Homo sapiens: one gene and its partners. The protein of the gene in region 3 purifies or fractionates together with the protein of the main gene of each other region. This does not show direct contact. Each region holds a gene or a part of one and is shown on either strand. Other genes may lie near its edges.

Evidence for each region.
Region 1: the proteins of AKAP1 (region 3) and TRABD purify together in Homo sapiens (affinity purification with mass spectrometry; one large-scale study listed by BioGRID and IntAct). This does not show direct contact.
Region 2: the proteins of AKAP1 (region 3) and MYO19 purify together in Homo sapiens (affinity purification with mass spectrometry; one large-scale study listed by BioGRID and IntAct). This does not show direct contact.
Region 4: the proteins of AKAP1 (region 3) and MFN2 purify together in Homo sapiens (affinity purification with mass spectrometry; one large-scale study listed by BioGRID and IntAct). This does not show direct contact.
Region 5: the proteins of AKAP1 (region 3) and ABCD1 purify together in Homo sapiens (affinity purification with mass spectrometry; one large-scale study listed by BioGRID and IntAct). This does not show direct contact.
Region 6: the proteins of AKAP1 (region 3) and HELZ purify together in Homo sapiens (affinity purification with mass spectrometry; one large-scale study listed by BioGRID and IntAct). This does not show direct contact.
Region 7: the proteins of AKAP1 (region 3) and NAA20 purify together in Homo sapiens (affinity purification with mass spectrometry; one large-scale study listed by BioGRID and IntAct). This does not show direct contact.

Annotation. Positions count from the first base shown.
Region 1 is NC_000022.11:50,191,885-50,196,133, forward strand, and holds part of TRABD (traB domain-containing protein), read left to right. Parts: intron 1-1,142; 5' UTR 1,143-1,176; coding exon 1,177-1,209; intron 1,210-1,691; coding exon 1,692-1,770; intron 1,771-2,455; coding exon 2,456-2,622; intron 2,623-3,015; coding exon 3,016-3,156; intron 3,157-4,249.
Region 2 is NC_000017.11:36,503,309-36,507,557, reverse strand, and holds part of MYO19 (unconventional myosin-XIX), read left to right. Parts: intron 1-45; coding exon 46-159; coding exon of another isoform or gene 160-167; intron 168-418; coding exon 419-595; intron 596-949; coding exon 950-1,102; intron 1,103-2,153; coding exon 2,154-2,261; intron 2,262-3,537; coding exon 3,538-3,608; intron 3,609-4,249. UniProt on the Homo sapiens protein: Actin-based motor molecule with ATPase activity that localizes to the mitochondrion outer membrane. Motor protein that moves towards the plus-end of actin filaments. Required for mitochondrial inheritance during mitosis.
Region 3 is NC_000017.11:57,101,641-57,105,889, forward strand, and holds part of AKAP1 (A-kinase anchor protein 1, mitochondrial precursor), read left to right. Parts: intron 1-3,800; 5' UTR 3,801-3,824; coding exon 3,825-4,249.
Region 4 is NC_000001.11:11,986,382-11,990,630, forward strand, and holds part of MFN2 (mitofusin-2), read left to right. Parts: intron 1-2,783; 5' UTR 2,784-2,787; coding exon 2,788-2,962; intron 2,963-4,249. UniProt on the Homo sapiens protein: Mitochondrial outer membrane GTPase that mediates mitochondrial clustering and fusion. Mitochondria are highly dynamic organelles, and their morphology is determined by the equilibrium between mitochondrial fusion and fission events.
Region 5 is NC_000023.11:153,738,102-153,742,350, forward strand, and holds part of ABCD1 (ATP-binding cassette sub-family D member 1), read left to right. Parts: exon of another isoform or gene 1-477; intron 478-1,990; coding exon 1,991-2,136; intron 2,137-2,472; coding exon 2,473-2,618; intron 2,619-4,249. UniProt on the Homo sapiens protein: ATP-dependent transporter of the ATP-binding cassette (ABC) family involved in the transport of very long chain fatty acid (VLCFA)-CoA from the cytosol to the peroxisome lumen.
Region 6 is NC_000017.11:67,101,677-67,105,925, reverse strand, and holds part of HELZ (probable helicase with zinc finger domain), read left to right. Parts: intron 1-4,249. UniProt on the Homo sapiens protein: May act as a helicase that plays a role in RNA metabolism in multiple tissues and organs within the developing embryo.
Region 7 is NC_000020.11:20,023,331-20,027,579, forward strand, and holds part of NAA20 (N-alpha-acetyltransferase 20), read left to right. Parts: intron 1-2,346; coding exon 2,347-2,437; intron 2,438-3,453; coding exon 3,454-3,589; intron 3,590-4,249. UniProt on the Homo sapiens protein: Catalytic subunit of the NatB complex which catalyzes acetylation of the N-terminal methionine residues of peptides beginning with Met-Asp, Met-Glu, Met-Asn and Met-Gln. Proteins with cell cycle functions are overrepresented in the pool of NatB substrates.

The DNA of each region.
Region 1 (4,249 bases), on a different chromosome or scaffold from region 3:
TGGGATTACGGGTGTGCACCACCACGCCTGGCTAATTTGTGTATTTTTGGTAGAGATGGGGTTTCACCAGGATGGTCTATGTTGGCCAGGCTGGTCTCGAACTCCTGAGCTCAGGCAGTCCATCCACCTTGGCCCCCCAAAGTGCTGGGATTACAGGTGTGAGCCACCGCGCCTGGCCTGTTTGGGATATTTTAATGATTCTGCCTGGTGACACATCCATCCGCCAGGACATGCATGAGCCATTAACTTGGTAAACAGTCACTCCTGGCATTCCGTGGCTGAGAACATTCAGGAAGAGCCACATGGTGCAGCAGGGCCTGTGGCCAGTCTCAGGACAGCCTGCTGGTCCCTGGCCCCGCCTCGAGGGGCTCCGCGCAGGTCTCGCCGATGCTCTGTGGGTCTTGGCCGGTGCGTGCCTCTGGTGCTGCAGGCGCCTGGCTGTTTTCTTCCTTCCCTCAGGCTCCTGGGCCCCCGGCCTGAGCTCCTGGTTTCTGAGAGTCTGTGGGGAGCTGTGATGCCTCGGGGCAGCCCCCTCGTGTGGCTGCCCCAGCCTGTCCGGGTTTCTACCGTGGTTCCTTCCACACCATGTTTGTCTCTTAAAGTGGGAGAGAAGGTCTTAGGTCCAAACACGTTGATTTGTGTGCTTTGTGGATTCCTCCGTCTGTACTGACTCTGTGCCGGTGTTGTTGCCCAGGCTGTAGTTACTGAAAGGGGAAGTGGCTTTTGTACAAAGGCCCTGGGGTCCTTGCCATGTGTCAGCAGCTGCGTTGCTGTGTCCTGAGATCATGTGTGGACCCCAGGGCTGCCTTCCTATGTGTGCCCGCCGTGCCGCAGTGAGGGTTGGGCAGCTCTGGCCCTGTTCTGAGTGAGGCCTGTGCACCAGCAACCCGCCCTGGGCCCGTCTGCGTTTGGTTTATGCTGGGGTGTCTGGGGACCTGCTGGCCTTTCCCCACCCGGGCCTGACCTGAACCGACCCTGGACCTCAGCAGCCTTTGATGGGCAGGAGGCATTTGGGGATATGGGGGAAGGAGCCCCCAGGCCCACCCAACAGATGGTTCTAGACTGACAGGGCACTACGCAGTGAGTCCTGAGCCAGGTCTGGGGCTCCAGGTGGAAACCCCGCCTCTCATGCCTCTCCTCAGGCTCCCCACAGGTGCAGGAAGCCGCCGCCCAGCCATGGACGGGGAGGAGCAGCAGCCACCGCACGAGGTGAGGTGGAGGCTGGGCTGGCTGCACAGAGACAGGGGCGGGGGGCTTCCCCGCTTTGTGGGCTCTCGGGGTCGGTCCCTGGCTGTTGTTCTGCAAAGGTGATCTTCACAGGGTTCTCCAGGGTCAGGCAGGAGGCACCTCCGAGGGAGAGGGGCGCTGGGCTGAGGTGGCCTGGTGGCCCTGTCTGCCCAGCTTGATGGCAGCCGTGCCAGTGATGGCCAAGCAGGAGGGGTACTGACAGTGTGGGGCCTAGGCTCTACGGAGGCCCTGCTTTTCAGGGTGTGTGGTACACAGAGCGGCCACGGGTCCCTTTCCCGGGTACGTGGTCCGTGGAGCGGTCACGGGCCCTCGTTTTTCAGGGTGTGTGGTCCACACAGCGGCCACGGGTCCCTTTCCAGGGTACGTGGTCCGTGGAGTTGCCACGGAGCCCTGGCTTTCTGGGGTGCATGGACCCTGACTTGAACTCTCCTTTCCACCTGCAGGCCAACGTGGAACCTGTTGTGCCGTCAGAGGCTTCAGAGCCGGTGCCCAGGGTGCTTTCTGGAGACCCCCAGAACCTGTGTACGTGTCCCTCAGGGTCCTGGCACGTTCCCCGGTGTTGGGCTGTTGAGTCAGGGAGGAGGGGGAGGCAGCCAACCACTGCCAGGGGCTTGGAGCTTGTGGTGAGCAGGGGCCCTGGCCGAGACCTGAGGTAGGTGCTGCTAGGCCTGGTGCCACCCAACAGCAGCTGCTCCTGGGCCCTGCCTGGCAGTGGAGCCTCTTGGAGGGGCTGCAAGCAGCACAGGCAGGCCCCTGGGCATGGGGGGCTCGTGAGCACAAGCAGTGTGAGCGGCACGGGAGTCCCTCCTTGCTGTGGCCTCAGCCTGTCCCTCCTGAGTGGGGTGGGGGGGCCCATTTCGCCTCAGAGCCCCTCCCCTAGCTGAGCCCCCTGCGGCACCTGCCCCCACTGTCCCCCACACCGAACCTCATCCACAGCAACCCCCAAGGTCGCCCTCATGGGGTGTATGGGGCACAGGACTCCTGAGGCCCTGGCTTCTCGAAGCCGTGCAGCTCACAGAGGTGGTAGCCGGTGTTCCCATCACTGGGCAGGCAAAGCCTGTGGAGTGTGACGCTCGTCAGGAGTCTTGTGCTCTGCACCTGTTCAGTTCTCAGAACCCAGGAGGGTTCTAGAGCCCAGGCTGCCAGCGGGCCCGGCGGCGTCCTTGGGGTGGGCCCGGCACCACAACGGCCTGTGCTGCTGTTGCAGCCGACGTGGACGCCTTCAACCTGCTCCTGGAGATGAAGCTGAAGCGGCGGCGTCAGCGGCCCAACCTGCCGCGCACTGTGACCCAGTTGGTGGCTGAGGACGGGAGCAGGGTGTACGTGGTGGGGACAGCCCACTTCAGCGACGACAGCAAGAGGGACGTTGTGAAGGTGAGCGCCGCCACCCGCCACATCCCGGACACGGGTTGGTGTAAGCTCCTGTGTCCTGCACTCAGGGACCTCCCGGCAGGGCCCGTGTGCCCGTGTGTGCGCACCGCAGGCCTCCTGCTTCAACACTGTGGTCCCTGGGAGTGGCAAGGTGGGCTTCCTGCCTGGGAGCCGTGACGGCCTTGTGCGTTTTCCCACTTAACAAGTGAACAAGCCTCACAGCTTCCTCTCTCGTCGCTTAGAGAATTGAGCTGTCACTGCAGCAGCGGGGTTAGCTAGCCCTGGGGTGACGCCAAGGCTGGCTGCTCCTGGGATGGGGCCCCTGGTGCTGGCGTCAGCTGTGCTGAGGGGCAGGGAGCGGCTGTGTTCTCGAGGTGTGACCTGTGGCTGTTGCAGACCATCCGGGAGGTGCAGCCTGACGTGGTGGTCGTGGAGCTCTGCCAATATCGTGTGTCCATGCTGAAGATGGACGAGAGCACGCTGCTGCGGGAGGCCCAGGAGCTCAGCCTGGAGAAGCTGCAGCAGGCCGTGAGGCAGGTGCGCAGCCGCGGGCAAGGGTCAGGGTCAGGGTCGGGGTCAAAGCCACCTGTTTGCCTGTTGCCCAGGTTCCTCTCACAGCCCATGCCCCCAGTCAGTGTGGCTGTGCCTGGCCTGCCCTGGGGATTGCCGGGTTAGGGACCTCCCCTGGGCCAGGAGAAATGAAAGAGGCTCCATTACCCGGTTTCAGGCAAGGGAGGAGGAAATGGGTGGCTCTCCAAGCTGAGGCAGGGGCTGGTCACCCGAGGACTGGGTTGCTGAGCAGTTGCTGGGGATGGGTCAGGTCTCAGTGCAAGGTTGGCCCCCCCGGTACCACACCCAGGCCCAAAGTGGGTGGGGCTCAGGGCTCCTCCTGTCCCCACTTCTCCAGCCTTGCAGTGACCGGAGAGGCAGGACTTTCTCATTGCTCTTTGTGTTTTCGGTTTTTGTTTTTTTTTTTTGAGACAGAGTCTCGCTCTGTTGCCCAGGCTGGAGTGCAGTGGTGCGATCTTGGCTCACTGCAACCTTCGCCTCCTGGGTTCTAGTGATGCTCCCGCCTCAGCCTCCTGAGTAGCTGGGATTACAGGTGCCTGCCACCACACCTGGCTAATTTTTTGTATTTTTAGTAGAGACGGGGTTTCACCATGTTGCCCAGGTTCATCTCAAACTCCTGAGCTCAGGCAATCCACCCACCTCAGCCTCCCAAAGTGCTGGGAATACAGGCATGAGCCACCGCGCCCGGCCAGGCTTTGTGTTTTCAAAGGGGGCCCAGCACGCCTGACCCCAGCCCTGGTCAGTTTGCCTTCCCCCTGTTCAAAGGAAACAATTATAATGAGATCTTATAGAAATGTCCCTAAACGTTTGGCGCCTGCCTTTCATTTTTTAATTTCTCCAGATGAGGCAAGTCACCAAAGAAGACCTCTGTGGGCCGTCTTCTAAAGGGCAGTCCCCGGTCCAGCCAGGGCCCAGCACTGGGCAGCCTCCCCACCAGAGCCTGGGGCCCAGTGATCTCGAAGGGGCATAGAATTCGGCAGTGCCGTGCTGCTCACTGCTGCGGTGTCACAGAGGGAAGGGGGCGTGGGGCAGGGTCTGGGAGACACCAGGTGTCCGCTTC
Region 2 (4,249 bases), about 21 Mb from region 3:
AGACCACAGCTGCCTTCTCCCACCTCATCCCACCTTGTTCTTTAGGAGGAATACGCAGTTGAGGGCCTGGAGTGGTCATTCATCAACTACCAGGACAACCAGCCCTGTTTGGATCTCATTGAGGGAAGCCCCATCAGCATCTGCTCCCTCATAAATGAGGTGGGGAGGTCAGCTAATGAGCCGAGCACCAGAGTTGGCCTTTGGGTTTTCTGGGGCCTTGATGATTATCCTGTTTCCTCTCTGTGCCTCTCTCCTCCCAGTCTGCCAAATAGATCTGCTAATTGCTATATTTTTTCTGTTGGGGACACTATGATGCCTGTGTGATGTCTGCTGTCATGGGGTCCACAGGGTGGGGACAGTGAGGGTTGTGGTGAGACACTCTCATGTTGGTGGCTGACCCCCTGTTCCCATCCCACAGGAATGCCGCCTCAATCGACCCAGCAGCGCAGCCCAGCTCCAGACACGCATTGAGACTGCCCTGGCAGGCAGCCCCTGCCTGGGCCACAATAAGCTCAGCCGGGAGCCCAGCTTCATTGTGGTGCATTATGCGGGGCCTGTGCGGTACCACACAGCAGGCCTGGTGGAGAAGAACAAGGTACGGGCTGGGCCATGCCCTGTGGGGCCTGCGAGAAACGAGATGCTGGGTCTTTGCTATGCAGACATAGTAGTTTCCCATCGTGAGTCCTTTCTCTCCTGAACCTCCTCCCAGAATCCAGAATCACCATCTTGGGCCCACCTGTCTGAGGTCTCCACTAATCAAGCATGACCTGCCTGGAGATAACCCATGTTAGACTGGGTCTCCAGGTCTCTGGTTGTCCAATGGACCTTCTCTTGGACTCAGGCCCTGTCCTACCTGGAAGCCCCGTCATCTGCGGCTTGGGTGGGCAGTGGATGGCCCTGAGCAGAAGCTCCACCTGCCCTCACTGCTGCTCTTGCCATTTCCCAATAGGACCCTATCCCACCTGAGCTGACCAGGCTCCTGCAGCAATCCCAGGACCCCCTGCTCATGGGGCTGTTTCCTACTAACCCCAAAGAGAAGACCCAGGAGGAACCCCCTGGCCAGAGCAGGGCCCCTGTGTTGACCGTGGTGTCCAAGTTCAAGGTGGGTCTGATGTGCTGATGGGAGGTGCTTGGTTCAAACTCCACGGTCTCACAAATATTTATTGAGCACCTGCCGGGATCGGTGCTGTTTGTTGGGGAGCAGTGGCAAGTCAAGTAGATGTGGTCCCAGTCCCCTGGAGTTTATACTTCAGTGTGGAAGACAGAAACAGTAGACAAATAGGCTATCAGGTATAATATGATGGGAAGTCTAGGGGCCTATGGGGGCACTATGCAGCCTCTCACCCCCTGCCACTGGGGTGCTCATGGGAAGAGGATCAGCTACATGAGCTTCTTTGACCTGGCTCATCTCCAGCTGTCTAGCTTCCTGTTCTAACCCTACCCTCACTCACTTCTCTCACATCGTCTGCTTTCTACCACCTCTCAGTCCTTGCATGTACCGCCCCACCTTCCTGGGATACTCTTGACTACTGCCCCATCAGCTCCACCTCACTCCCATCCTCCACGCCCCTTTTCCTAGTTTAGTCCTTCTCATCCTTCAGACTTTAGCTTTATCACCACCACCTCGAGGAGGCACCTGGAAAACCAGGTTTGATTAGCACCTTCCTACCCAGCCTCAAACACACCCCCGAGGGTGTTCATCCAACATGTGTGGCCCATTGGAGTGAGCTCTGACATGGCAGCAGGCAGCCTGTGGCACAGCCTCCAACACACAGGATGAGCTGAGTGATAACAGTTGTTGCTGGACGAATGGCAAGAAGTTTTGAGATTGTTCTTTTCTAAGAAGATTGCTCTGGGGAGAAGTGGGGAGGGGAAAGAGGAGGAGATTGGATTCAGGGAGAACAGTCAGGGAGGATCACAGGTTTAGAAGGGTCCCTTAAGACAGAGGTGAGGAGCATGGGAAGTTGGGAGAGGAATGTGCTCTGAGCCTGCTCGTTGAGAGCCTGCAGCAGTCATCCCTGCACAGGAGATTCTTGGTCTCAGGATCATGGAAGGGCCCGCTGGAGGCATTTGATGTAGTTACTAACCAGAGCCCAGTTGATGGCCCTGGGCAGCCCCTCTCCCTGCCTAACCCCATGGTCTCTCATCTGCAGGCCTCACTGGAGCAGCTTCTGCAGGTCCTACACAGCACCACGCCCCACTACATTCGCTGCATCAAGCCCAACAGCCAGGGCCAGGCGCAGACCTTTCTCCAAGAGGAGGTAATTAACACCGGGCCAAAGCTGCTTCGCACCAAACCCCATCTGGCCAAGGCCCTGGAGAGATGAAGGGCAGGACATCTGTTCCAAATGGAGTGCACAGAAGTGGTCTCTCCGGCCAGGCCTGACATGAGAGAGGACCCATCTCCCTTGCTGTGGCAGGGCAGGCATGTATGGTTGTGTGGTCTGTGCATAGTAGCCTAGCCAGGGAGGCAAGTTCCAGTGCATCTTGTTTTTTTGAGCCATGTACCCTGATGAGAGACTGAAACTGCCCAGAGGAATGGGTGTCTCGTGATTAGCTGAAAGTCTACATCACCACACAGTCCCCGCACAGTGCAGCCATTTCTCACTGGAGGTATCATTTTTTTCTTTTTTTTTTTTTTTTTTGAGACTGAGCCTCACTCTGTCACCCAGGCTGGAGTGCAGTGGTGCAATCTCAGCTCACTGCAACTTCCGCCTCCCGAGTTCAAGTGATTCTCCTGCCTCAGTCTCCCAAATAGCTGGAATTACAGGTATGCACCACCACACCTGGCTAATTTTTGTATTTTTAGTAGAGATGGAGTTTCACCATGTTAGCCAGGCTGGTCTCAAACTCCTGACCTCAGGTGATCTGCCCACCTCAGCCTCCCAAAGTGCTGGGATTACAGGCATGAGCAGCCACTGCACTCAGCCGGTATCATTTTTTTCTAATCTAACAAAAGCACTCTAGCCAGCAGCTGCCCTTTTCTTGGGATTCCAGGTTCTGAGGGATGTGGATGAGGGGTGAATGCTGGGCACTGCTGAAGGTGTGGCCTGGTAGATGTGGCCTTCCGGTTTGTAGCCAGGACAACTCAGCTCTGTGGTAAAGACCTGGGTTCAGGTCACAGAAGAATCTTCATAGTATAATCTTCCCTGCCTCTCAGCTGTGAACCACCCTCTAATGCCTGCAGACAGTGAAAACAATCCAAACTGGAAATTTGCCTGGGCTGGGTTGTGTGGTAGTGAGACTACACTGAGGGCAGGGTGAGACGGAGCCAGGACATCACTTGCTTCAGCTGTATCAGAAGCCATGCGTCGGATGAGGGGGACTTGGGACCACCAGGACCCTTTCTAGTGGGAGATTTGTTTTCAAGGTCCCTCGATTTCTCACAGCCCCAAGGAGATACCCCCATTAGCCAAGCCTTGGGAGAGCCTGCAGCTTGGCACTGGCCAGGGTCTAAGAAGAAGGGCTGAGAGAATGGCATTTCTGGCCTGCTGGCCCCATGCTGCAGGTGCCTGCCCTGTCTCCCCACCCTTGCAGGTCCTGAGCCAGCTGGAGGCCTGTGGCCTCGTGGAGACCATCCATATCAGTGCTGCTGGCTTCCCCATCCGGTGAGTGGGCTCGATCACGGCACAGTGCAGGGCCAGTACAGAGTGGGGCTCAGGACTCTCATTGGGCAAGAGCCTGCCCAACCCAGAGTGAGATGTGGAAATGAAGAGAAAGAGGCTGGTCTGTAGAAGTCAGCTGGGAACTAGGGAGCAGCACCCATTCGTTCATCCATTCACTTATTGTGCACTATTTTGTACCCAGCTGATGGCTGTGACAAAAGCCACACTGGTACAATGTTGGGGACAGAAGCCAGACTCAGGAGGGCTGACAAGCAATTGGGAGGAAGTGCAGATATCAGGTGCCAGCAGCTGTCTGAGAAGTGTTGCCTTGATGAGGAGCAGGGAGATCTGGGGGAGGCAGAGGAGACTGTGGGGTCAGAGAGGTCAGAGGGGAGATGTGGCCAAGCATGTCTGCGTCATAGGACTGGTCCAATTGTTTGGGGAGAGGCCTGTCAGCCCCTTTGGAGGGAGGCAGCCCGCAAATCCCCTGCTAACACAAGAGATGCTTTGTGTTGGTAGACCAAGGCAGCAGGGAGAGCAGACCCATTTTAAATAGTCTTTATGGGTTTCCAACTAAGTGATCCTAGAAATCGCTTCAAAACCACATTCACATTCAGTGGGGATACTCGGGGAGGGCAGCACCG
Region 3 (4,249 bases):
GCTAATGTGAAGCCAAGTTGGAGAACCGGTTGTGAAAGAAATTAAAAATCTCTCCTCCCAAAAGGAGGAAGTAAGACTCTTTATCTGTAGGTAAGAAATCCCAAGGAAATCTACTAAATGGTTAGAATTAGTGAGTTCAGCAAGTTTGCAGGATACAAGATCAGTGTGTAGAAACTTCCCCTCTCCTACAACTGAATGGCTTGTTGTGTGTCCTTCCCAGTTTTTCCATGGGATTATGTGAACATAGACATTCCATACACATGGTGGTCTGTACCTTTTTGTTTTACGTATCCAGGTGATTTTTTCCATGTCGGCACATGAGATCAACTTCTTTCGGTAACATCGGTATGTCAGTGGATTCCATAATCTACCTAGCAGTGATTCCCCTGAAATGTTTGTTAATCCCAATTTTGTTTCAAATGATGCCTCAGCCTGTGCAGAGGTACGTGGGTTAAAAACATTTTGAAAAAAAATTTTTTAAGGGACTAGTCTCACTGTGTTGCCCAGGCTGGTGGCAACTCCTGGACTTCAGCGATCCTCCTGTCTCTGCCTCTTTAAGTAGCTGGGATCACAGGTGCTTGGCTTTGTGGATTTTTCTTTGTTGTGGTTTTGTTTTTGTTTTTTTAATTTAAAGATGCCAAGTGTGGGATTTCAGAGTTGTAGGATGTGGTTATGAGCTTTTAAGAGCTATCATAAGGCTCTCCGGAAAGGTAGTACAGACTTCCCCTTTTCTTGGCTCATATAGCGCCTCTTCCCCACAGTTCTAGAATAATGGGTTCCAGATTTAATGTGGGAGAGAATTTAGGTACCCATCCCTTGGCTGTATGCCTTGAGCTTTTTTTTTTTTTTGAGTCTCGCTCTGTCACCCAGACTGGAGTGCAGTGGCACTATCTTGGCTCACTGCAACCTCTGCCTCCCGGGTTCAAGTGATTCTCCCGCTCAGCCTCCCGAGTAGCTGGGAGTACAGGCTCCCGCCACAACTCCCGGCTCTCTCTCTTTTTTTTTTGTATTTTTAGTAGAAACAGGGTTTAACATGTTAACCAGGATGGTCTCAATCTCCTGACCTCGTGATCCACCCGCCTCAGCCTCTGAAAGTGCTAGGATTATAGGTGTGAGCCACCGCACCCAGCCTCCTTGAGCTATTTTAACCTTCAAGATAGTAATTCATTTGGCTGGGCACCGTGGCCTGTCATCCCAGCACTTTGGGAGGCCGGCTGGCGGATCACCTGAGGTCTCGAGTTCCAGTCTAGCCAACATGGCGAAACCCCGTCTCTACCAAAAATACAAAAATTAGCCAAGTGTGGTGGTGGGCGCCTGTAGACCCAGCTACTCTGGAGGCTGAGACAGGAGAACTGCATGAACCTGGAGGCAGAGGTTGTAATGAGCCGAGATCACACCACTGCACTCCAGCCTGGACGACAGCGAGATAAAAGGAAAACAATCTAGCAAGGTTCTGTGTTTGAATGTGAAGCAAAACGGTAGCACTAAATTTCTTCCCTGAGGAATTGATGTAAAGCCTTAGCCCTGGCCACTGCCTAGCCCTGCATTGTGCTTCAAATGCTATCATTGCTGCTGCTTCAAATATCAGCAAGAAAGTTTATCTTTAAAGATATAGGGACTTTCAAATGGAGGTGACCTTCTCACTACCACTGCCCCCACTTCATCACTTCAGGGGCAGAACACACCTCTTAGCATTCCTTCACAAACTGTAAGGTCCTTCTCAATCCCCTAGGGATCTTGTTAAAATGCAAGTCTGAGGTGAGACTGGGATACTGCATTTCTAGCAAGGTCCTAGGCAATATTCAGGACTTCTGGTACATGGATCGCACTTTCAGAAGCAGAGTCCTAGAGTAGTGGTTCCCAGCCTTGGCTGGAAAGTAGAACCTCTCAGGGAACTTTTAAAAGTACTGATGTTCTGGTTCTGCCAGAAAACAATATAAGTCAAACCAATATGAGTTGTTAAAACATGTGCATTTGTTATCTCTAAAAGAAAACAAACCCAAATAAGGTGTAATTCAGCTTGTCAGTTGAAGGATTTTTGGTTTTAAAAAGACATTACTTTGGCAGAGAGATTTAAAGTTTGCTGGCATAGGAAGCATTGAATGTAAGTGTTCTAGAATAAGCCCATCATATACCTTTAGTGAGTGTTAACTGCTTTGCAAAGAACTTTCTATATCTCAGCTAATCCTTATACCAACCATCCATTAAGAGATGTGTCCCCATCTTACAGATGAGGAAAAATTGAGTTTTCTATCCCCTTTACATGTCTGTTGCCTTCTTCTAGGCCCTTACTATTCCTCCTTGCTTAGACCTAACTGACTTAGGTTTCTAGGTTCCTTCTGCTCGATATACTTCACTTTTCTTTTTTGAGATGGAGTCTTGATCTCGGCTCACTGCAACCTCCACCCCCCTGGATTCAAGCAATTCTCCTGCCTCAGCCTCCTGAGTAGCTGGGATTACAGGCGCCTGCCACCATGCCCAGCTAATTTTTGTATTTTTAGTAGAGACAGGGTTTCACCGTGTTGCCCAGGCTAGTCTCAAACTTCTGACCTTAGGTGATCTGCCGAGCTCTGCTTCCCAAAGTGCTGGGATTTCAGGCTTCAGGCATGAGCCACTGCGCCCAGCCTCGATTCACTTTTCATCCTGTTCCCAGAATTGCCTTCTAGAAACAATTTGATGTGTGTGCCTTGCAGACCTATGCTGGTTCTCTGTTGTCTGCAGGATAAAGTCCAGACTACGCAGTGGGGCCCTAGGACACCCTCACTGACCCCACGATGGTACAGATGCTCCTCAGCTTACAATGGAGTTACATCCTGGTAGACCCATTGTAAGCTGAAAATAGCATAAATCGAAAATAAATACATCTAATGCACCTAACCTACTGAACACCATAGTTTAGCCTAGGCTACTTTACATGAGCTGAGAAGACTCACAGTCGTCTACAGTGGGGCAAAATCACCTAGCAACACGATCCACTCTGGAGTGCCCGTTGTTCACCCTTGTGATAGAGTGGATGACTGGGAGCTAGCATTGCGAGAGAGTAGCGCATCACCTATTGGTAGTCCAGGGAAAGATCAGAATCCAAAATTGGAAGTATAGTTTCCACTGAATGGGTATTGTTTCCCACCATTGTAAAGTTGAAAAATTCTCAGTTGAGCCTTGGAAGATCAGGGAGCGCCTGTATTTGAATCTTCCAAGTCTGACCTGGACCTTCATGCTGCAGTTTGCTGTGTTGGTCCCTCACCCTGGAGCATCTCCTTAGCCATTGGGAATTTTATTCCTCCTTCATTCTCACTGTCTCTAATTGCTGAGTAACAAAGTTCCATTTCATTGACTCATGATTTTATGGGTAGATGTGAGGGAACCATGCACATGTGGATTCCATGGGGGTTTGAAATGCTCTGATGCCACTTGATAGAAAAAAATGTTCTGTGAGTTTAGAGAACTGAGCCACACTGAGCAGAGCTAGCCCCTTTTTGGGGAACATAGAGAGAATTTGGCATCATGAAGTGATGAAGGGAGGGATTTGGGTTAAAGAATAGAATGCTCGGTTTGTTTCAAGAGGGTGCGTGAGTTGGGGAGCATGGAGGGGAAGATGCCTCTTCCTGGCCACTGACCCCCAGTGGATCACACAGAGGGTGGACTGGTACGAGCTGAGAGGTGTGCTCCTCTTGGAGGGCAGGGAAGGCGGAGGAGATGGCTCCAGCTCTACCCTGTTGACTGTCTTGCATGTGCGGTTGCCAGTATCCTCCTACCTGGCTCTGTAACATCCCTCCTCCCCGCTCTCCTGCTCTCCCCAGGTGTAATTACTTCAAGCCTCCAGGATGGCAATCCAGTTCCGTTCGCTCTTCCCCTTGGCATTGCCTGGGATGCTGGCGCTCCTCGGCTGGTGGTGGTTTTTCTCTCGTAAAAAAGGCCATGTCAGCAGCCATGATGAGCAGCAGGTGGAGGCTGGTGCTGTGCAGCTGAGGGCTGACCCTGCCATCAAGGAACCTCTCCCCGTGGAAGACGTCTGTCCCAAAGTAGTGTCCACACCCCCCAGTGTCACAGAGCCTCCAGAAAAGGAACTGTCCACCGTGAGCAAGCTGCCTGCAGAGCCCCCAGCATTGCTCCAGACACACCCACCTTGCCGAAGATCAGAGTCCTCGGGCATTCTTCCTAACACCACAGACATGAGATTGCGACCAGGAACACGCAGAGATGACAGTACAAAGCTGGAGCTAGCCCTGACAGGTGGTGAAGCCAAATC
Region 4 (4,249 bases), on a different chromosome or scaffold from region 3:
TGACAGACCCAGGCACAGTCAGCTGTGCACACACCCCCTCATCCAGGAGGGCCTTTGCCCTTTGACTTCCTGGGATTGGTGGGCTCTGCTCAAGAAGTAGCTTTCGCCGTGGTGGGAACTCTGAGGGACCTGGCAGGGGTCCACTTTTGGGGTCGGAATTCCCAGTCTTACCCTGGGCACTCCTTCTGGTGTGTACGCCTCTTTTTGATCTTTTTTTTTTTTTTTTTGAGATGGAGTCTTGCTCTATTGCTCAGGCTGGAGTGCAATGGCGCGATCTTAGCTCACTGCAACTTCCAGCTCCCAGGTTCAAGCAATTCTCGTGCCTCAGCCTCCCGAGTAGCTGGGATTACAGGTGCCTGCCACCATGCCTGGCTAATTTTTGTATTTTTAGCAGAGAAGGGGTTTCACCATGTTGGCCAGGCTGGTCTCAAGTGATCCACCCGCCTGGGCCTCCCAAAGTGCAGGGATTATAGGTGTGAGCCACCATGCCCAGCCTCTTTTGACCTTTGACCAAAGACCTCTAGGACTTTGGAGTCAAGTCTCATGACCTCTAAAATGTTGTTATATGAAAAGATAAGCTACAAAGATATGTAGGATTGAGTGAGAGCAAGAGAGACAGTCACACAAAAATAGACTGTGATAATATGGCTGGGTACGGTGGCTCACGCCTGTATTCCCAGCACTTCGGGAGGCCGAAGCAGATGGATCACTTGAGGTCAGGAGTTTGAGACCAGCCTGGCCAACATGGTGAAGCCCTGTCTACGAAAAATAAAAAAATTAGCTGGGTGTGGTGGTACATGCCCGTACTCCAAGCTACTCAGGAGGCTGAGTGAGGCAGGAGGATCGCTTGAACCTGGGAGGTGGAGGTTGTAGTGAGCTGAGATTGCACCACTGCACCCAGCCTGGGTGACAAAAGTGAGACTCTGTCTCAAAAAAAAAAAAAAAATTATAATAAACAAAATGTTGGGCCGGGCGTGGTGGCTCATGCCTGTAATCCCAGCACTTTCGGAGGACAAGGTGGGTGGATCATTTGAGGTCAGGAGTTCAAGACCTACCTGGCCAACATGGTGAAACCCCACCTCTACTGAAAATACAAAAATTAGCCGGGCATGGTGGCGAGTGCCTGTAGTCCCAGTTGCTTGGGAGGCTGAGGCAGGAGAATAGCTTGAACTCGGGAGGTGGTGGTTGCAGTGAGCCGAGATCATGCCACAGCACTCCAGCCTGAGCGATAGAGCAAGACTCTGTCTCAGAAAAAAAAAAAAAAAATGTTGGCTGGGCATGGTGGCTCACGCCTTTAATCCCAGCACTTTAATCCCAACACTTTGGGAATCCAAAGTGAGAGGATCATTGGAGCCCAAGAGTTTGGGAGCAGCCTGGGCAACATAAGAAGACCCTGTCTCTACAAAAAATTTTAAAAAAATTAGTGGGGCGTGGTGGTGCATGCCTGTGGTCTCATGTACTCAGGAGGCTGAGGTGGGAGGATTGCTTGGACCCAAGAGGTTGAGGCTGCAGTGAGCTGTGATTGCGCCACTGCACTCCAGCCCAGGTAACAGCGAGATCTTGTCTCAAAATAAAAAATAAATAAGTAAATAAAATGTTAACATTGCTTATCACAAAATGATGGGGTTATGGGTTTTTTTCCCCTTCAGTTTCCAAATTTTCTGTAGCACACCTGTGCTATACTAAAATAGACCAATAGTTTTTGTGTGTGTGTGTGTGTGTGTGTGTTTTTCTTTGTTGAGACTTGGTCTGGCTCTGTCACCCAGGCTGGAGTACAGTGGTGCGATCTCGGCTCACTGCAACCTCCGCCTCCCAGGTTCAAGCAATTCTCTGCCTCAGCCTCCCAAGTAGCTGGGATTATAGGCGGCCACCACCACACCCGGCTATATTTTTTTGTATTTTTAGTAGAGACGGGGTTTCATCATGTTGGCCAGGCTGGTCTTGAACTCCTGACCTTGTGATCCACTTGCCTCAGCCTCCCAGAGTGCTGGGATTACAGGCATAACCCACCATGCCTGGCTGTTTTTTTTTTTTTTTTTAAATAGAGACGGGGTCCTACATTGCCTAGGCTTGTCTCGAACTCCAAAGTTCAAGTGATCTGCCTGCCTTGGCCTCTCAAAGTGCTGGGATTATAGGTATGAGCCACTGAACCTGGCCCCTAACCAATAGTGTTTTTATGTGGTCTTGCTCTGTCTCCCAGGCTAGAGTGCAGTGGACTGATCATAGGTCACTGCAGCCGAAACTCCTGGGCTCAAGTGACCCTCCCACCTCAGACTCCCAAGTAGCTAGGACTGCAGATGCATGCCACTGTGTCATGCTAATTTTGTTTTATTTTTTGAGACAAAATCTCGCCCTGTCACCCAGGCTGGAGTACAATGGCATGATCTTGGTTCATTGCAGCCTCCATCTCCCAGGTTCAAGTGATTCTCCTGTCTCAGCCTCCCAAGTAGCTGGGATTACAGGTGTGTGCCATTGGGTCTGGCTAATTACTGTATTTTTAGTAGAGACGGGGGTTTCACCATGTTGGCCAGGCTGGTCTTGAACTCCTGACCTCAGGTGATCCACCTGCCTCAACCTCCCAAAGTTCTGAGATTACAGGGGTGAGCCACCGCGCCCAGCCTGAGACACTGTTCTTATCTCACCGTCCTTTGTTCTAGTCCTGGAGGTTGCAGTGACCTGAGATCCCCATATTCTTGATTCTCCCCAAAGCATTCCGCCATCTCCCTAGCAGGATGTCCCGAGGTAGGTGTTGCTGGGTTCGCTCACGTTAGCTTCTCTTGCAGCGCAATGTCCCTGCTCTTCTCTCGATGCAACTCTATCGTCACAGTCAAGAAAAATAAGAGACACATGGCTGAGGTGAATGCATCCCCACTTAAGCACTTTGTCACTGCCAAGAAGAAGATCAATGGCATTTTTGAGCAGCTGGGGGCCTACATCCAGGAGAGCGCCACCTTCCTTGAAGGTAAGGGGGCACCGGCTCAGCCAGGCCCGCTCTTACCTGTTTAGATATTTAGCTAGTGGGATTTGCGGGTGGGGAGGTATATCTCTGCTCCCAGGGAAGTCATAACCAGATAGCCTTAGAAATGCTCTGCTCTTGAAATCATGTGGAATTGGAGTCTGGGGAGATGAGGCCAGGAAGACAAGGGAACTGCCATTTAGTAATTACTTTAAGAAGTCCACATGTTTTGTTTCATTTAATCATGAAAGATAGGTGAATCTTATCCCCATCTACAAGGCAAGCAAATTGAGGTTTGAGAGTTGTCCGATACCTTGTAAGTAATAGATCAGGGTTTTACCCAGGTGTCTCCAACTCCGGAGCCCACGTGTTTTCCTTTGCCTAGTTCTGGCTGCCATTAATACCAGGCACTGTTTGGGTGTCAGTGATCCCTGACCAGGGCGCCCTTTCTTTGATATTTTTAGATTGGTGACAGAACTATAGGAAACTCACGTCACCTATGCCTTTTCTACTAGTTACTAATTTGAGCCCAACCTCTAGTTCCTTGTCTATCAGCAGAGAAGGACTGGTTCCCAGGGCCCCGCTCGTCTGAGTGTCAACTCCAGCACTGGCTTCCTCAGGCTCCCTCTTTAGAAGGACACTTTGGCGCCAGGTCCTGAGATTGTCTGTGGAGACCCAGTAACTGAGTCTTATCTGCCCTTGGTTTCCTCACTTGTGAAAGTGGGGCTCAGGTGTGAACAGTGGTTTCAGATTCTAGTCTGCAGAACCCTAGAAGTTCAGTGGTGGTGCTTCGGGGGTTGGCCCCTGGCTCAGGGGGGCCACCTTCTTTCCATTCTGCTTTCAAATAGAGCAGCTTGGCTTCTCGTTGTTTTACATGCCAGGCTGCTACACGAGGCTCCCTTTGAAGAAAGAGACTGTCCAACTTCATGCCCTCATCTGTGCCCTGCCCTTTGCGTGGCGCTTGATGCCACAGAAGGTGTTTCCTAAATACTTGTTGAACTAAAACAAATCTGAATTTTAAAGTAGTATGATTGGTAGTTGAAATAATCCCAACTCATTGCCTGTTTATCAGTGGCTATGGTGTGCCAGCCGTGTGCCAGGTGCTGGGCATGCAGAGATGGGGTAGATCAGGCCGCTCCCCTCTGGGAGCCCAGACTAACCCTCTTGGAAGCTCTGAGTCACCTACTCAGATGATGTGGTGGACAAACACATGCGTAATGCAGGTGTTTATGTGATGCATGCTTTGATTTCTCTGTGTGTGAAAATATGAGGCCTCCCCTGTTGTTTAAATGG
Region 5 (4,249 bases), on a different chromosome or scaffold from region 3:
GAGCTGATCACCAGTGAGTCCAAGGAAGGTGGTTTCCAGGCTGGCCCCGGGCAGCACAAGCAGGCAGGGGCAGCGGGCAAGCTCATGGGGCCCCTGCGCGCAGGGCCACATATGCTCAGGGAGCCGGGTATGCGAGATGGGGCAAGGCCCAGGCCCCACCCTTCAGGAGGGGACAGTCAGGTGGCTTCATTAGCATCCTGTGGCTGCGGTCACAAAGCGTTACAAACTTTGAGTGGCTTTCCCAGCAGAGATGGCCTCTCTCCCGGCTCGGGGAATAGCAGTCCGAGAGGAAGGCGCAGGCAGGGCGGGCTTCTGCCAAGGACCGAGAAGGTGCCTCCGCTCGGGGCCTCTGTCCCAGCTTCTGCTCTGCTGCCCATCTGCGGGCTTCCCTGGCTTCTGCCACGGCAGGTCGGCCTCAGCCTCTGTCTCCACACGGCGCTCTCCCTCTGGGTGTGTCCGTGTCTCCGTCTCCCCTTTCTGTCAGGACACAGGTCACACTGCATTAGGGCCCACCCCTCTGCAGAATGACCTCATGCAGACCTAACTCATCACGTCCGCAATGACCCTGTTTCCAAATAAGCTCACACTCCGAGGTAGTGGGGATTAGGGTTCCCACATAGGAATTTCAGAGGACAGAGTTCCACCCATGACACTGCCTGAGGTAAGCTAAAGACCACGGCCTCAAGTCTTCCCAGGAGCCCCGTGTAGCATTGTTGTTGTTACCGTGAACTTCACTGACTCCAGGCCCCTGGCCTCCTCCCTGCACACAGCCCGCCTCCAGCCTGGCCGGCATTTTCCCAAAGTAGGCATTTCCTAGCTCCAGCGAGGACCATGGAGTCAGTGAATTGAGGAGCCTGAGGTCCATGATGCAGAGCCCAGGGGCCACTGTGGCATCTCTGGGCCACTCTGGCACCTGGGGAGGCAGTGGGGTCTGTACTGTCAGTCTAGAGACATAAAGAAAGTGCTTTTTGGGCCGGGCGTGGTCGCTCATGCCTGTCATCCCAGCACTTTGGGAGGCCGAGGTGGGCAGATCGCTTAAGCCCAGGAGTTCAAGACCAGCCTGGGCAACATGGCAAACCCCGTCTCTACAGAAATTTTTAAAAATACACAAATAAGCCAAGTGTGGTGGCGGTGCCTGTAGTTCTAGCCACTTGAAAAAAAAGGCTAAAGTGAGAGGGTCTCTTGAGCCCAGGAGGTTGAGCCTGCAGTGAGCCATGATCCCACCACTGCACTCCAGCCTGGGCAACAGAGCAAGGCCCCGTCTCAAAAAGAAAAGAAAGAAACTGCCTTTTGTCCCCAGTGACTCAGGAGGCCAAGGTGAGAGAGTCGCTTGAGGCCAAGAGTTTGAGACCAGCCTGAGTAACATAGCAAGACCCTGTCTCTAAAACAACATTTAAAAATTAGCCAGGCATGGTGGCGTGCATCTGTAGGCCCAGCTACTCAGGAGGCTGAGGTGGGAGGATCACTTGAGCCCAGGAGTTGGAGACTGCGGTGAGCTGTGATCATACCGCTGCACTCCAGCCTGGGCAACAGAGTGAGGTCTCGTCTCTTGAAAACAAAGTGCCTTTCAGGGCAGTTCCTTAAAGGGGGCTGACAGTTGACCCTGCACTTGGATTCCTGGTGAAGTGGGAGTCGGATGGGACTGAGGACGGCGCTGGCTGTGTTGGAACACACCTACTCATTCAGCTGTGGCAGAATAGGCCCTTCCTCTTGTGCTGGCACCATGTTCTCCAGGCGTGTCAGGGCCTGAGGACTGGGCCGGGGCTTGTCCATTCCTGTGTCCTGGGCCAGGCATTTAGCGAGAGCCAAATTTAGCTAGGGCTGTGGACGCTGGACCCCATCCCCCAGGCCCTGCTGTCCCTTATCAAGAGATCAAGAATGGCCTGCGTGCTGGCCTCGGGCATTGGGAGCCTCTCAAGGCTGGTCAGGAGGCCATAGGGTACGGGAAGGGGCCTGCGCTCTCTGGCGTCAGCGGCTGTTGCCCCTGCAGGTGGAGGAAGGCATGCATCTGCTCATCACAGGCCCCAATGGCTGCGGCAAGAGCTCCCTGTTCCGGATCCTGGGTGGGCTCTGGCCCACGTACGGTGGTGTGCTCTACAAGCCCCCACCCCAGCGCATGTTCTACATCCCGCAGAGGTAAGGAAGCCCGTGCGCCTCTCCTCCACCTCTTCCTGCCTGTGCGCTCACACATGGCTTCCTGCAGAGGCCCAGGAAGTGGTGAAGAGTCAGCACCTCAGGAGAGGACACTGAGGCACTGTCCCCAGAGCCAGAGACGGGCTGTGGTTCCTGCTCCCTCCAAACCCGCCCGATCCACTGCCCTGTTTTGGATCTGTGTGGGGTGTGTGCACGGGCGGCGATGTGAGCGTGTGGATGCGTGTGAGCGTGGCATGTGGACACTGCCTGGGAGGCGCAGAGTATCTTGGGGGAGGCAGAGCCGGCCCTTCCCTCCGTGGACACCCAGCTTTCCCACAGGCCCTACATGTCTGTGGGCTCCCTGCGTGACCAGGTGATCTACCCGGACTCAGTGGAGGACATGCAAAGGAAGGGCTACTCGGAGCAGGACCTGGAAGCCATCCTGGACGTCGTGCACCTGCACCACATCCTGCAGCGGGAGGGAGGTAGGAGGCCTGGGGCTGGCAGCCACCCTTTGTCCCACCCTGGCCTCTCCCTTGGCCTCCAGGGAGTGAAGATTACCTCAACATCCAGAGTCTAAAGTGCCAGGTGCCACGGGGCGGGGCAGAGGCTGCTACCAGGGAGGACCAACACCACACAGATGGCCCCAGGTGCTCTAGGGAAGGGGGCACCTAGCAGGGATGTGCACCTCACTGGGGGACCCAGGATACCCTCTCCCAGAGAAAAGAGGTCTGAGCTGAGCCCTGCAGAATGCTGAGTGGTTACCCCGTCCGGAAGCCAGGGGCAGCAGGGCGGAGTGCGTTCCGAAGGCTTGGTGGTGCGAGAGGCTGGCTCACAGAGGGCCCTCGGGACCAGGCGGGAGCCTAGGCTTTCCCTGAGCAGGATCAGACGCTCTTGGAAGGACCATGGGGTGGTGGGCAGGGGCAGCCTGGGAGGGGCAGGCACATGTGTGCAGTGATGGCTACTGTCAAGAGGTTTGTGCAGACGCTTGGAGGGGGCTGGGGCCAGCAGAGTCAGGTGGATTCAGAGATGAGTTCACTGAAAAGGAGGCCAGACTGAGCTGTTGTCTTGTCCTGGGCTTATCAAGGAATACTGCTTGTCCACAGTGTCTGTCGGGCCGGAAGAGCGGAGGAGGAGAGGGGGCTGCAGCTACAGGGACACAGTAGATGGAGTGTTCAGTTCTGTCTTTGAATTCTGAGCCTCTGGGTTCTGCTTCCAGCCTGCACTGCTGGGTGCGAGATGGCCCTGGGCAAGGACCTCGCCTTGCTGGGGCTCCCCTTCACGGTTCAAGGGCACGGGCACCAAGCCCTCCCTCGGTGGCAACATGAGAAGAAGTGGCTCCTGCAGGAAATGGCCGGGGTGTTGTCACCTGCCTGTGGAGGAAGCGGGGACACAGGTGGCAATGGCAGTGGAGCAGCCCCTGGCCCGGCCCTGCCTCTTGCTCCTGCTGCCCTCAGCCTGGGAGCACGTGGCCCCTCCCGCCTCTGTGGCAGCCTGAATGCCCAGGGCCTGTGGCCGGCCAGCATGAGCCATTAGGATGGAGTTGAGCTGCGAGGAACAGAACGGGCCTCCCCGCAATAGTGGCTAAGATCATCTGTGAGTTTATCCTACTGAGCTGTTAGGTCCCAAGAGAGCCAGGCCACGGTTGCCAGGGCTGGCCCTGCTCTGTGAAGGCCCCAGGGCTCGAGGATTTTCTACCAGGTCACTCTGCTGTGTTTGGCCTCCGTTCCCAAAGTCACCTCATGATCCAGGAGGGCTGCTGCAGCCCTCACATCATGTCCCAGGCTGTAGGATGGAGGAAGTAGAAGGGAAGGGGCAAAAGGTATGTGCCTTCTTTTAAGGAAGGTTCCAGAAGCCGCCATATTGAATACTTACAGTTATATCTCATTGGCCACAACTTAGTCTCATGCTCACACCTCATCACAAGGCCACCTGGGAAGCGTAATCTCTACTCTGGGTGGCCATATGCCCTGTTGCCACTTCTAGCCCTGGGCCGCTGGGGAAGGCAGCATGGGCGAGAAGACAGGAAGGGCCGCTTCTGCCGCAGCGCCCCGACCTAATGGAGCAGCCGGCTCACCTGCTCGTTCAAGCAGCCCACTCGAGCCTTGCCAAAGTG
Region 6 (4,249 bases), about 10 Mb from region 3:
TGTCTTATTTGTAGGGATTTAGAGGCAGTCTGTTCAAATTGTCCCAGTATTCATTGATTGGCTCATTCTGTATAGCTGTCATTAAAACAACTTACTGTGATTTTAGGCTCTTAAAGTAAGTTAGAAGCACAATAAAGATGAATTGGTATCTACATATATGTATTGTGAGGATCTAGAATTTTGGAACCATACTTTACAAAAATTTGGCACACATCTGACAGTCTTTCAGATTATAATGAACAGTAGTTTTACAACTGATCAGTAATGTAATTTTCAGTTAAGTGATGTTTTAGCTATTTATAATAAAATTCACATAAAAGTCACCATTTTAGCCATTTTAAATTGTACAATTTGGTGGATTTTAGTGTATTCACAATGTTATACAGTCATCACTACTGTCTAATTCCAGAACATTTCATCACCCATAAAAGAAACCCCATAACTGTTAAGCAATTACACCCCAATTTCCCCACTCTCAGATTAGTAACCACTAATCTACTTTCTGTGTCTATGGAGACATTTCATAAAAATTGAGTCATACATTATGTGGCCTTTTATATCTGGCTTTTGAAGTGCATCCACACTGTAACTTAGGAGTGGAGTTCTTGGGTGATGTAGTAAGTCTATGTTTAACTTTTTGAGGAACTGCAAACTGTGTTCTCTGCACATTTATATTCCCACAGCTATGTATGAGGATTCCAATTTCTCTATATACTCGCTTTGTAAAAAAAATTATAACCATCCTAATGGGTGTGTAGTAGGATCTCATTGTAGTGTTGTTTGTTTGTTTTTTGACACGGAGTCGCACTCAGTCGCCCAGGCTGGAGCGCAGTGGCATGATCTTGGCTCACTGCAACCTCTGCCTTCTAGGTTCAAGCAATTCTCTTGCCTCAGGCTCCTGAGTAGCTGGGACTACAGGCGCCCACCACCACACCCAGCTAATTTTGTTGTTGTTGTTGTTGTATTTTTAGTAGAGACGGGGTTTCACGATATTGGCCAGGCTGGTCTCAAACTCCTGACCTCAGGTGATCCGCCCCCAGCCTCCCAAAGTGCTGGGATTACAGGCGTAAGCCACCGCGCCCAGCCCTCACTGTAGTTTTGATTTGCATTTCCCTATTTACTGATGATGTTGACATCTTTGCATGTGCTTCTTGGTCATTTGTATCTTTTTTGGAGAAATGTCTATTCATATGCTTCAGCCATTTAAAAAAATGGTTATTTTTTTGTTACTTAGTTATAAGAGGTTTTTTTTAATGTATTCTGGTACAGACTCTTAATCTCATATATGATTTGCAATTATTTCTCTCACTGTGTGGGTTGTCTTTTCACTTTCTTGATAGTGTCCTTTGATGCTAAACTACAATTTATCTATTTTTTTCTTTGGCTGCTTATGCTTTTGGTGTCATATCCAAGAAACCCTGGCCTAATCCAAGATGGCAAAGATGTACTTTTACATTTCCTTTTTATAGTTGTTTGTTTTTTTTTTTGAAATGGCGTCTCGCTCTGTTGCACAGGCTGGAGTGCAGTGGCGCCATCTCGGCTCACTGCAAGCTCCGCCTCCCGGGTTCACGCCATTCTGCTGCCTCACCCTCCGGAATAGCTGGAACTACAGGTGTCCACCACCACACCCGGCTAATTTTTTTTGTATTTTTTTTAGTAGATACGGGGTTTCACCATGTTAGCCAGGATAGTCTCAATCTCCTGACCTCGTGATCTGCTCGCCTCGGCCTCCCAAAGTGCTGGGATTACAGGCTTGAGCCACCGCACCCGGCCCCTTTTTATAGTTTTATAGTTTTACCTCTTACACTTGGTTCTTAGTTCTTTGGTCCATTTTGAGTTAATTTTTGTATATTGTGTGAGGTGGGTATCAAATTCATTCTTTTGCATGTGGCCATACAGTTTTCTCAGCACCGCTTTTGAAAAGACTCCTTTCCCCCATTGAATAGTCTTGGCAACATTGTCAAAAATCAGTTGACTGTAGATGCTGGGTTTATTTGTGGATTCTCCATTGTATTTCATTTATCTGTGTGTCTGTCTTTCTGCCAGTACCACACTGTATTGTACACTGTAGTATTGTAGTAAGTTTTGGAATTGGAAGTATGAGTCCTTATATTTTGTTCTTTTGGAAGATTGTTTTGGCTATTCTGGGTTCCTTGAATTTTCTCATGTGAGGTTTAGGATCAGCTTACTAATTTCTTCAGAAAAAAAGCCAGCTGACATTTAAAAAAAGAATTGCTTTAAATCTCTAGATTAATTTGGGGAGTATTGCAACCTTAACAATATTAAGTCTTCGAGTACCTGAACATGGACATCTTTCTATTTGTTCAGGACGCTTAACATTTCTTTCAACAGTATTTTGTAATTTTCCAAGTATAAGTCTTGCACTTCTTTTGTTAAATTTATTCCTAAGCATTTTATTCTTTCTCATGCTATCATAAATGGAATTGTTTTCTTAATTTCATTTTTTGATTGTTCATTGCTAGTGTTTAACCACATGATGATATATTGATTGTGTATCTGCAATCTTGCTGAACTCTATTAACAGATTTTTTTGTAGATATCTTAGGCTTTTTTATATGGAAGATAATGTCATCTACAAATAAAAATAGTTTCATTCTTCCTTTCCAATCTGAATGCCTTTTATTTCTTTTTCTTGCTTAATTCTTGATTGTTTTTCTGGTTGCCACAAGCTTTTAATTAGGTTTCTAGGTTCCCAAAAAATGGATTATGACAGCTTTTGCCAATTTTTTTCTGTTTTTATGGAGGGATGGACTTTGGAGTTTCTCACTCTGCCATTTTTGCTGATATCACTTATGATGTTTTTATTTAACCTGCCAAATGAGTTCATGATATGAGGGGGAACTGTGTGCCAAAGTTTTTATAGGTTTTATGAAGTTTTGTACTTTACTAAATAATACTTCATATTGAATAATCTACTTTAGTCATTGATCTTTTTAAATGGGCCTTAATTTTGGAATTTAAGCTTTTTGTACCTTGGTGCTCTTAATGTCTGATATTTCTGTTATCTTTGTTTGTGTGTGAATAAGTACCTTTCATTGTCAGTGGGTTCTTAGAGTGAAATTTACTTTTGCAAAAACATTTGGTCAGTTTTATTTTGTTGCATGAGATTCACAAATGAGTGATTTACTGACAACACTGAAAAATTTATTTGACAAAGATAATATTTTTTTAGCACATTGCAGATTTTCACATTTTCAGTGTATTAGGGTAACTTTAGTCTGTTCAAAATGCTTTTGCATGAATCATCTCACAAAGTGAATGATTGATGTGCTTGCTGTTTATTTCCAACCTTTTAAAATAATTTCTTTAACGTTAACAACAAAGAAAAGGCTTTTCCCTCCCACTATGGATCCTTTTATTCCCAGAAAACTTAGTAGATTAATCTTGTGGGATGATATCTGGATGTTAGTGTAACAGTTCATTTAAATGGAAATGGTTGGTTACATTATGTTTCACTTGTTTTTTCTTTTTATAGTAATTTTGATTTTCTTGTGACAAATGAAATACATGGCCAGCACAGAAAATGTAGAAGTTAGAGAAATTATTTATAATTTAACTAGACAAAGATACCTACTATAACATTTAGCCTTTCCTAGCATTTATAGATGTGAATGTATGATCCATTAATGGAGGGAGATTATTTGTTGGGAAAACTTGAAACAATTTCTCTCTGCCCTTCCCCCAATTGCTATGCCCACCTATATCACCACTGAATGGGATCTTGGTCCCATTCTGTAACATTTTTTGCTACTTTCAATTTTTAGACTATTCTCATGTAGATAATTAGGCTTAACTCCATGGATTTTCCTTCCCCACCTCAAACGCAGCAAAAGCCATGGCCCTTGGCTGCTTGGCTAAGGCTGGACATTGTGGTCTGGCAGTACTGCCTGCATCCTTTCCCACTTCCGGTCCTTACAGGTGTGATGGGATGAGGAGGACAACAAAGGGCAAAGTGCCATCTTCTCCTGAGCCAGGCAGTAGACCATCCCCAATTGCCAATAGATTGATAAATTGCTCCAATTTGATTTTAAATGCCAGTGTAAGCTTGGGATTAGTGTTTACATTTTCTCTAGACGTTTAGCCAGTTGTCTTCCTGTCTTTTTGGAATTATTACATTCTCACTAAAGAGATGTCACTTTCCAAATTCTTTGCAATAGCACTGTATCATACTTGCTCCGAGGGGTGGGGGTAGTGCAAAATGAAATGCAGAGAGAAACAACAGAAGTTA
Region 7 (4,249 bases), on a different chromosome or scaffold from region 3:
AGAGTACCTTTGGGAAATGCCACACAGGCCCGCTCTGTCTCATTGACCAGCACCTGTTTCATGCTTCACCTGTCTACTGAATCCTATCTAGAGTCCAGAAATGTGCCCTGCTTTATAAATTGGGACTTGTTACTAAAGTGAAGGCTTTGAGGTAACAATGAACAGTGTCTATTATTGTCCTAATGGAAAAATGGGGCAAAGATGTGAAGATAGGATACTGTGGTTATGCTGCTGTAACAGATAACCCCACATCTCTAGTGGCTTACAACACAAAGTTCGGATTCTGTGTTATGCTCTGTATCTACTGTAGGTGGGTAGGAGGGTTCTGCTAACCGGTAATTTATCAAAAGAGGGCATATAGGAGCTTAATGAACGTGTTAAGAGTTCAGTCTCATCAGTCAAAAGACATGTAAACTAAAACCAAAATGAGATGCCATATTTTATGTATCAGCCAAGATTTTAAAAAATGATAAACCTCAGTGCTGATGATGGTGAGGTGAGAGGAACATTCTCATAAATTGCTAGTGACAATATAAATTGCTATTATCTTTCCAGAAGGCACTTTGGAAATAGTAATTCCATTTCCTGAAAGCTGAAAATAAGAAGAAATAGAGGCAGTTTGTCAGTGGTTGACAAAATAAGGCCCATAGGCCAAATCTGGCCCACTGCCTGTTTTTGTAAATAAAATGTTATTGGGACACCACGCTGATTAATTTATATTTTTTTCTGTGGCTTTTGCAGTTTGAGTAGTTCAGCAGGGACTGTATGGCCCACAAAGCCTAGGATGTTAACTATTTGGCCTTTTACAGAAAAAGTTTGCTAACCCCTGAGTTATACCATTACAAACATTATTTATTGCAGGAGAGTTACTAAGCATTTGGAATAAGATTCACACACAACAATCAGGAGATGGTTAAGTAAATTAAGCTGTACTGAAGAAGGATTTCAAACATTTTTTTGAGAAACAGGAAATGACCCAGGTGTCCATTGTCAGGATACAGGCTATTTAAGGTGTCTCTTCACATAAAGAAATACTATACAGCAGTAAAAATTAACTTACAGGTGCAGGCAGCAACAGGACTACATATCAGAAACAAAACTGAATGGGAAAAGCAAAAAATCTCTGCAGGTTCATCTGGATTTTTTAAATTACGACTAATGATATCACCACTTTTAAGATTTTTGAAGAATTTTGAATGACAAAAGTTTCACTATATAGGAAGGAAGGATTTTAGGATGCAAATCCGTTTATATGGTGTGCTTCCAGTGACATTTAAAATTTGCAGTGAAAGTCCCATAATCCAGGTGAGCCTATATTTGAAAGTAACCTGTTAGGTCCTAGAGGTCGATGGGAGGGAGGGGTGTCTGGGACTCCTCTGTTAGCCACAGAAGAGATGGTTGTGGTATATGTCAGTGGCTGGCTGGCAGGAAGACTGGCTGTCCTGCCATGTTAAGGGTTGTATTTGAGGGGTATTCAAAATAATGATGGTCCTTCAGAGGAGATTTTGAAGAATTTCGCACGGAACAGGTTTTCCAGGAACTTAAAAAATATATTTATGTGTGATTGATGGTGTCCTCTGATAAATTGCATCAGAAAGTTTATACTAACAAGAAATATATTTTCATCCATTAAAGTACAGAGTAAAAAGAAGAAGAGAAATGTAGGAATGATTACATGTCAGTAAGGATATCCCAAGGTTGAAGAGTGAAGTCATGAGCAAATTATTCAGGCATTTACTGTTAACATAGTTGATTCCTTAAGTCAGCTTTTATCTGCATTACTAGAAATGCAGGATTTGAATCAGTGGAGAGGAAAAACTGGGTAATTAAGTTGGCTCTGGAAGGACTTAGGTTGTAAAGTTATTTTCACAGTCTCATAGCTGAAGTCAAAGTAGGAACTACCCATTAATTTTTCAGTGCAATTATGTAAGCATCAGTGTATTAAGCATCTACTGTGTACCAGGCACCAGGGACAGAGGGAACATGATATTCATAGACTAAGAGGAGGCAGACCGCAAACAAACAATATCAGGTGATAAATGGAGAGACTTAGATATGGTATGGTCAGTAGGGAAGTAGACTGTAGAACTTTGGGGTCCTGATTCTCTGCTTTCTATTAGACAGTGCTATCACCATTCCACACTTGAGGCTATATGTCCAGGCAATTTTGTTAAAAATCAGTGATAACCTAAATATTTCATGTAATGGTATGTATGATTATAGGACTCATACAGAGCTGGGGATAAAGTAACAGTATACTTTTTAAAGGAAACTTTTTTTACAATATCCCTTAATGAAGAACTTTTTACTGTCCATTACTTTTCACACTCCTTAACAGGACTCTAGTATGGGATTCCTTTCTACCTACAATACCTCGCCCACTGGCCAGAGTATTTCATTGTTGCAGAGGCACCTGGTGGAGAATTAATGGGTTATAGTAAGTATAATACCACTAGTATTTTGTGGAGTAGGTAAAGATTTTAATATAGATTTCAACTGATTGCTTTAGACTGCAGAATTGGAATATAATGATGCTTGTAATTTTATTTCCTCTTCAACAATTCAAGAACTTACTGATCTCTGTTTTGGGCACTGTGCTAGGCCCAGGCGATAACGGCAGTGAACCAGACAGACATGGTCTTAGTCTTCTTAAATCTTTCATTCTAAAAAAAAAAAAAATCTTTCATTCTAAGGCCAGGTACAGTGGCTCACGCCTGTAATCCCAACACTTTGGAAGGCCAAGGCAGGCAGATCCTTTGAGGTCAGGAGTTCAAGATCGGCCTGGCCAAATGGTGAAAGCCTGCCTCTACTAAAAATACAAAAAATTAGCTGGGCGTGGTATCGCGTGCCTATAATCCCAGCTACTCAGGAAGCTGAGGCGGGAGAATCACTTGAACCCCGGAGGCAGAACTTGCAGTGGGCTGAGATCATGCCACTGCACTCCAGCCTGGGTGACACAGTGAGACTCTGTCTCAAAAAAAAAAAAAAAATCTTTCATTCTATACTTTTGTTAAATTTCTACATGGTTTATTTAGTACATAATGCAGGCATCATAGCATCCTCATTGAATTAGCATTACTAACAGAACCTTTAGCTCTGAACTATATGTGTACATCCACATGTACCCACATATACCCACACCCATATGAAATGCAGATATTTGAAAAAATACATACTCTGGTTTTTTTTTTTTCAAAATTAGTTGTGTTTTAAGTATATCGTTCTTTTTTGTTCTAATTCTGATTTTAGAACTATTCTAAATGTAACAGATAGTGTTACATTTACAAGTGAATTTCAAATAAAAGCACTAACTGTTAGCTGGATGACCTCAGGTGGTACTTAAAAACTTCTTTATTAGTTTCCTTTGTAATAAAAACATACTGAACAGTAATTCTATATTTATGTGTAAATCAATGTCTAGTTACTGAATGTGATTTTTGTTGTTGTTGGCAGTTATGGGTAAAGCAGAAGGCTCAGTAGCTAGGGAAGAATGGCACGGGCACGTCACAGCTCTGTCTGTTGCCCCAGAATTTCGACGCCTTGGTTTGGCTGCTAAACTTATGGAGTTACTAGAGGAGATTTCAGAAAGGTGAGATTCAGTTTTTCAAATACACTTAGTGATTTGTGGACCCCTAACCATTTTCTTCCCCTTCAGGCTGAATAACTGTCATGCTTTACAGTTCACAGGAATTTCATCTTCCATCTCCAGTAGTCCTTAGAACAATTCTATCACATAGTCAAAGTGATATTGTTTCTATTTTGCCATTGAGGAAATTAAGGCAAAGTGTTGTAGTGACCCGCTATAGGCCTATAAGCTGAGGAATTGGTGCAATTCAGTTCCAAAGGCTAGCTCTCGAGGTTTCTCTTAGTGTTCCTGCCACAGTGGCACACATTCCTAAAATCTGTTACCATTGCTTTGGCATCTGAATAAATTTTTAGCAGTGCTCCTCGGCCAAAAGAAAATAGTTCAGTCTTAAGCAGTTATATTCTAACTGTTTAATAAGTATTTATAGCCTAACAGCTAATAGCCATTTAGAAAAAAAATAAATTGAAAGAAGAAATATTTTCATTTCATTCTTAAATAACTGTGGCTAGCTACCAATGAGAGGTGTGCACCTGTTGGACATTAAATGACTTGGCAGAACCACTTGCATTCCTGTTTCATATTGATTTTCATCTAGTATTTTTTTTTAATCACAGCAACTGCCAGAAACTCAGCTTCATAGAAATATTATGTCATTAAGAGGAA